2 separate regions of the Homo sapiens genome follow, and region 1 is linked to region 2. Evidence: fine-mapped expression QTL. A gene starts in region 2. The other region holds a variant in brackets. All regions are shown on one strand. Distances are from middle to middle. Region 1 overlaps SNX15 (sorting nexin 15). Region 2 holds the start of NAALADL1 (N-acetylated alpha-linked acidic dipeptidase like 1).

Region 1 (2,899 bases), 23 kb after region 2:
ACGCCCGTAATCTCAGCACTCTGGGAGGCGGAGGCAGGTGGATCACTTGAGTGTCAGGAGTTTGAGACCAGCCTGACCAAAATGGTGCGACCCTGTCTCTACTCAAAATACAAAAATTAGCCAGGCGTGGTGGCGCGCGCCTGTAGTCCCAGCCACTCAGGAGGCTGAGGCAGGAGAATCGCTTGAATCCGGGAGGCGGAGGTGGGAGTGAGCTGAGATCGCGCCACTGCACTCCAGCCTCGGCAATCCAGAGCAAGACTCGATCTCAAAAAAAAAAACGGGCCAAGCGCGGTGGCTCACATCCGTAATCCCAGCACTTTCAGAGGCTGAGGCGGGCGCACCACCTGAGGTCGGGAGTTTGAGACCAGCCTGACCAACATGGAAAAATCCCATCTCGACTAAAAATACAAAATTAGCAGGCACCGTGGTGCGCGCCTGTAGTCGCAGCTACTCAGGAGGCTGAGGCAGGAGAATCGCTTGGACCTGGGAGGTTGCAGTGAGCAGAGATTGCGCCACTGTACTCCAGACTGGGCGACAAAGTGAGACTCTGTCTCAAAAAAAGAAAAAGAATAACAGACATGGACTCTTGCTATATTGCCCAGGCTGGTCTTGAATTCCTGGGCTCAAGCAATCTTCCTGCCTCAGCCTCCCAAAGTGTCGAGATTACAGGTGTGAGCCAATGTGCCAGGCGTTGGCAAATTTTAGAATGAAAAACTCCAGTGTCTCAGAGCTTGGGACTGTCGAGTCCCAGGATCTCACAGCAAGAAGGTGCCCAGGACCCTGACCTCCATTGGGGGGGCCCTTCTACCTCCAGCATCCCCAAATGCCAGTGGCTCCAGGCCCCCAGAGGGATTTCCCTTTGCAGCTGCCCTTTGAGCTGAGAACTCACTCCCATTGACCAGCAGGCCTCTTGCCTTCAGGATCTGCAGCCAGACCCTGGCCAGTCAGGAAATCCCACCAAGAGCTTGCAGGGAAGGAACTAAAATGTCCCAGAGCAGTGTGACCCGGCTCTTTCCAAAGCCTTCTCAGTGAGATGGCCCCAACATGGGAAGTGCCTCCTTTCCTTCCTCGTGGCTATTTGTTGCACAGGTGCATCCAGCACACCACACCACGTGCCCTGGCACAGGGCTTCTAATTCTCATTGAAGCTGCTATTGGC[C/T]CACAGGGCAGCACTGCTGAGGAGACGTCTCTCCCTGATCTGCGCAGGCACTGAGCAGGCTAGTGGGGCTCTGCCCTCCTCCCTGTCCCAAGGACGTCCTGCCCTGGCTCCTTCCCGGCTGTCCCAGCTCATTACCTTCCTTGGAGAAGGGGTCGAAGAGGGCAAGCTCAGCCTCGGTGAGGGGGCCTCGGGCAGGGGAACCAGATGCCTCCTCGGTGCTCTCACAGTTAAAGAGGAGATCCAGGGCCTCCTGGGCAGGGCTGGATGGTGGGGGGTCCACTGAGGAAGAGATAAGTGGGGTCATGAATACCTGCGTTTATTTCTCAGCTTTCAAAATAGAATTACTCTCTCCTTAAACCCTTGCAGCAACCATGGGCATAGACAAGCCTGTTATTAGGGTTTGTGCTCATTTTACAGATCAAGAAACTGTAGCACAGAGAAGGAAAAGGACCTGCCCAAAGTTCCTCAGCCAGTTAAGTGATAGACCTGGGACACACACACATTTCTCAGTAAGATCACTGAGGAGGGAGTGTGGCCGCCCTCCCCACTCTGCACCCTCCAGCCCTGGTTCCCTCCTCCCACCCCGATGTACCTGGCACCTCCAATTCCTCGAGGCCCCTCCTTTCTGCAGGGAGCAGTTGGGATAGCCGGGGGTCATCAGGGGGCGGGGTGGGGATCAGAGGGGGTGGCAGGATGTGTAGGTCCCTGGACACCTCCAAGGGTCGGGTCACCTCCCCACCCTGCAGGACAGAAAGATCAGACATGGGGAGTCATGGGGTGCAATCTGGTGGGTGGGTAAGTGGCCCAAGTTCTGGGAAGGTGGAAGGTGCACATACCCGGAAGAACTCCTTGAGCTGGGGGCTGTTGTTGAGCGCAGGTATGTGCACAGTGAAGCGAAGCAGGTCCTCTGCCCCCTTTCGCCGCTCCTCGATCACTGAGGCTTCAAACCGGCCTACGGCCCCCAGGACAAGGAACAGGGGAGAGTGGCGGTGACCCACAGGGGCTTCTGCCCCAAGGCCACTTTTCCTGGTCCTGCCTGAGATGCTCTGAGCAACTCACTGCCCTCCTACCCATTCTCCCAGCAATCTGCCCTGGTTCCTCCTGGGGTGAGGTAGGGGCTTCCAGGAGGGATCAATTTCCCTATTCATTCATTTGCCAGATGTTTACTGAGCACCTACTATATGCTAGACTCAGAAGGTGAACAGGGGAGGAACCAGTCTCTGCCCTTGTGAATATCATATCCTACCCAGGGGGAGCTAGGCAGTTAACAAGAAACAAAAGCATTTCTGATGGCTTTGATCTAATGAGAAAAGTAAGGCTCAGAGAGGGAAAGTGACTTGCCCAAGGTCACAAAGCAAGGAGCCCCCGTTTATTTTTTGAGAAAAGGACTGGCTGTGTTACCCAGGCTGGTGTGCAGTGGCACGATCTCAGCTCACTGCAACCTCTGCCTCCTGGGATCAAGCCGCCCTCCCGCCTCAGCCTCCCAAGTAGCTGGGACTATAGGTGCACACAATCATGCCTGGCTAATTTTTGTATTTTTTGTAGAGATGGGGTTTTACCATGTTGCCCAGGCTGGTCTTGAACTCCTGAGCTCAAGTGATTACCTTGCCTTGGCTTCCCAAAGCACTGAGATTACAGGTGCGAGCCACAGTTTCACTGCTCTGTCCTAGGTATTTTGCAGAGCAGGCTAACTCTGGTCCAGTTACTGTGCGGCCAGTCTGTGGTACTTCCCCACTGGCCT
Region 2 (2,899 bases):
GGAACACCTTTTCAGCCTTGGAGGACCCCCTCAGATGTTCCCTCCTAGTCAGAACTCCTCACTCTTTCACTGGGAGCATGGTGATCCTCCCTCTACAGGGCACTTACCACATGGCTGAACCTAAAGCCTGTCTGCCTCGCCTGCTGGATTTTGCTTCCCCACAGCCTTGCATGGCTCTAGTATAGCACAGAATGAACAGTGCTTGCATGTATAAAGGAAGGAATGAATAAGTGAATGGAGGGATGGGTGGATGGATAAATAGGAGGGTGGATGACGGAGTCCAGGCAGAGCCAGGGGATAGAAGAGGAAGTCACCTCGCCAGGGAGGCATGGGCTTCCCCTGCTGCCTCCTCTGGGACAGCCTCCCTTCCCAGGACTCCCATTCCTCGTATCGCTGGGCTCCCTTCAGGATAGACACAGAGAGTTCTTCTGGGTCCTCCTTCTTCCTTTAGCTCTAGGCCTTACATTTTCCAGAGTCAGATGAGGGATGAGTAGTTAAAATTGATGAGCTCCCACTACATGTCAGACACTGCACTAGCTATTTCTACAGATGCCATATTGTTTAATGAAAATGACACCATAGCCGGCACGGTGGCTCACTCCTGTCATCCCAGCACTTTGGGAGGCTGAGGCGGGTGATCACCTGAGATCAGGAGTTTGAGACCAGCCTGGCCAACATGGTGAAACCCCATCTCTACTAAAAATACAAAAATTAGCTGGACATGGTGGTGCACACCCGTAATCCCAGCTACTCGGGAGGCCGATGCAGGAGAATCACTTGAGCCCGGGAGGTGGAGGTTGCAGTGAGCCGAGATCACACCACTGGACTCCAGCCTGGGTGTCAGTGGAAGACACAGTCTAGAAAAAAAAAAAAGAAAACAGGTGTAGAGAAGCTGAGTGGATTGCCCAAGGTCACACAGCTTACGTCCAGCAAGAAGGGGGATCTCAACTCAAAATCTGCTCAGGCAGGTAGGGCTGGGTATGCTGTAGATCGGCTGCCTTGGAGGGAGGCAGAGGCAGTGAGGGTGGGCAGTGGGCACGGCCCTGCTGTGAACACAGGAGCTCTGAGTTCCAGCCCTGGCTTGGCCTCTGTTTTCCTGGGACACCCTGGATGAGCCCCTTCCCTCTCGGCTTCAGTGTCCCTGGGTGACCTTGCTGCCCTTGGAGAGCCATTCCAGGCAAATGGTGCAGGATGTGGTGGATGTGGATGGCTCCTGGCTCTCACTGCGGGATGTTCCCTCACTCTCCCTGCCAGCTGGGGGTCAAAGGGCAGTGCCACCCATGGGGTAATGTTTAACCAGGCACAACACCCCCTCTATAGGGAATAACCTATAGACCAGTCCTACCCCAGCTGGCCAAGAGTCCGCAGGATGCAGTGGACGAAGGTGTTGGGGCTGGGGCTGGGGGCTGCTGCCCTCTTGGGGCTGGGGATCATCCTCGGCCACTTTGCCATCCCCAAAAAAGCCAACTCACTGGCCCCCCAGGACCTGGACCTGGAGATCCTGGAGACCGTCATGGGGCAGCTGGATGCCCACAGGATCCGGGAGAACCTCAGGTGAGAAGTGGGGCCATCTGCTCCTCCGTTTGCCAGAGGCCCCCTCCCTGATGCTGGCCCTGCCCCTCCCTCTGCCCACCCTGCAGAGAACTCTCCAGGGAGCCACACCTGGCCTCCAGCCCTCGGGATGAGGACCTGGTGCAGCTGCTGCTGCAGCGCTGGAAGGACCCAGAGTCAGGCCTGGACTCGGCCGAGGCCTCCACGTACGAAGTGCTGCTGTCCTTCCCTAGCCAGGAGCAGCCCAACGTCGTGGACATCGGTGAGGTCCTGCCCAGTCTTGGGAATGCCCGGGGGTGGGGAGCTGCTGGGCCCAGCCATGATACTGCCACCCCTCCAACAGTGGGCCCCACTGGGGGCATCATCCACTCCTGCCACCGGACTGAGGAGAACGTGACCGGGGAGCAAGGGGGGCCAGATGTGGTACAACCCTATGCTGCCTATGCTCCTTCTGGAACCCCACAGGTGGGCCCAGAACCCCCCCTACTGCTCTGGCCCAGCTCCCTTGGTTCCACCCAGGGTTCTCCCCACCCTGACCCAGGGAACGTGCCTCAACTGGGGCACAGCGCGCCCTCCGGAATTTACTCACCGGGACACTCCATCGCTGCTCCTTTCCTCCATCAGTCATTCAACAAACACTAGTGGCTCTGCTCAAGGCCAGGTCTGTTACAGGGCACCCAGACATGGAGGAAATGAGGGGTGACTGTTCTTGGGGAGCTTACAAGCTCTGGGTGAGGTGGGGGAACAGAATCTAAATTCTCCCTCCTGCCATGCAAACTTCCACCCCCCTTCCCCACCCACACTTCGCTGGGCCCAGCTCTAAGGATCACCCCCTCTTGGGACTAGGGCCTCCTCGTCTATGCCAACCGGGGCGCGGAAGAAGACTTTAAGGAGCTACAGACTCAGGGCATCAAACTTGAAGGCACCATTGCCCTGACTCGATATGGGGGTGTAGGGCGTGGGGCCAAGGTGAGTGGCAGTCCCCCAGTGCAGGAGGCCTCGGTGAGGAAGGGGCTGGGCAGTGGACTGGAGGAAGTGAGGGGAAGGGGAAGGAGAAGAGGCAGTGTTGAGTGGGGAACCAAGCCCCAGGGTGGGGCAGGAAAGGCAAGGTGTTTTCGGGTTGTCCCACCAATGGGCTGTGTGGCCTCGGATGCCTCCCTGACCCTCTCTGAGCTGTAGGAAATAAAGGGGTTGAGTACAATTTTCAGGTTTGGTATTCCAGAAGTCTAAGTCCTCCTGTGAAATAGTTTTGAATATTCAACTTAAGTCCCTCCTGTTGGCCCTCTCCCTGCCATTTCTTTTCCATCAAAAATTCTGACTAGGGGCCGGGCGCTGTGGCTCACGCCTA

What was found.
Region 1: its variant is fine-mapped to the expression of NAALADL1 in whole blood (INTERVAL, PIP above 0.99).

Annotation. Positions count from the first base shown.
Region 1 is chr11:65,034,058-65,036,956 of GRCh38, reverse strand. It overlaps SNX15 (sorting nexin 15), which reads right to left. Exons shown (of 8, transcript NM_013306.5): 4 at 1,995-2,110; 5 at 1,751-1,898; 6 at 1,294-1,437. ARL2-SNX15 (ARL2-SNX15 readthrough (NMD candidate)) reads right to left here. Exons shown (of 11, transcript NR_037650.2): 7 at 1,995-2,110; 8 at 1,751-1,898; 9 at 1,294-1,437. Among named protein-coding and RNA genes, the nearest start is that of SAC3D1, 5.7 kb to the left of the region's middle. The variant C/T (reference allele first, on the strand shown) is at 1,159.
Region 2 is chr11:65,056,992-65,059,890 of GRCh38, reverse strand. NAALADL1 (N-acetylated alpha-linked acidic dipeptidase like 1) reads left to right here and starts at 1,338. Exons shown (of 18, transcript NM_005468.3): 1 at 1,338-1,554; 2 at 1,641-1,813; 3 at 1,895-2,016; 4 at 2,398-2,520. The coding sequence starts at 1,370.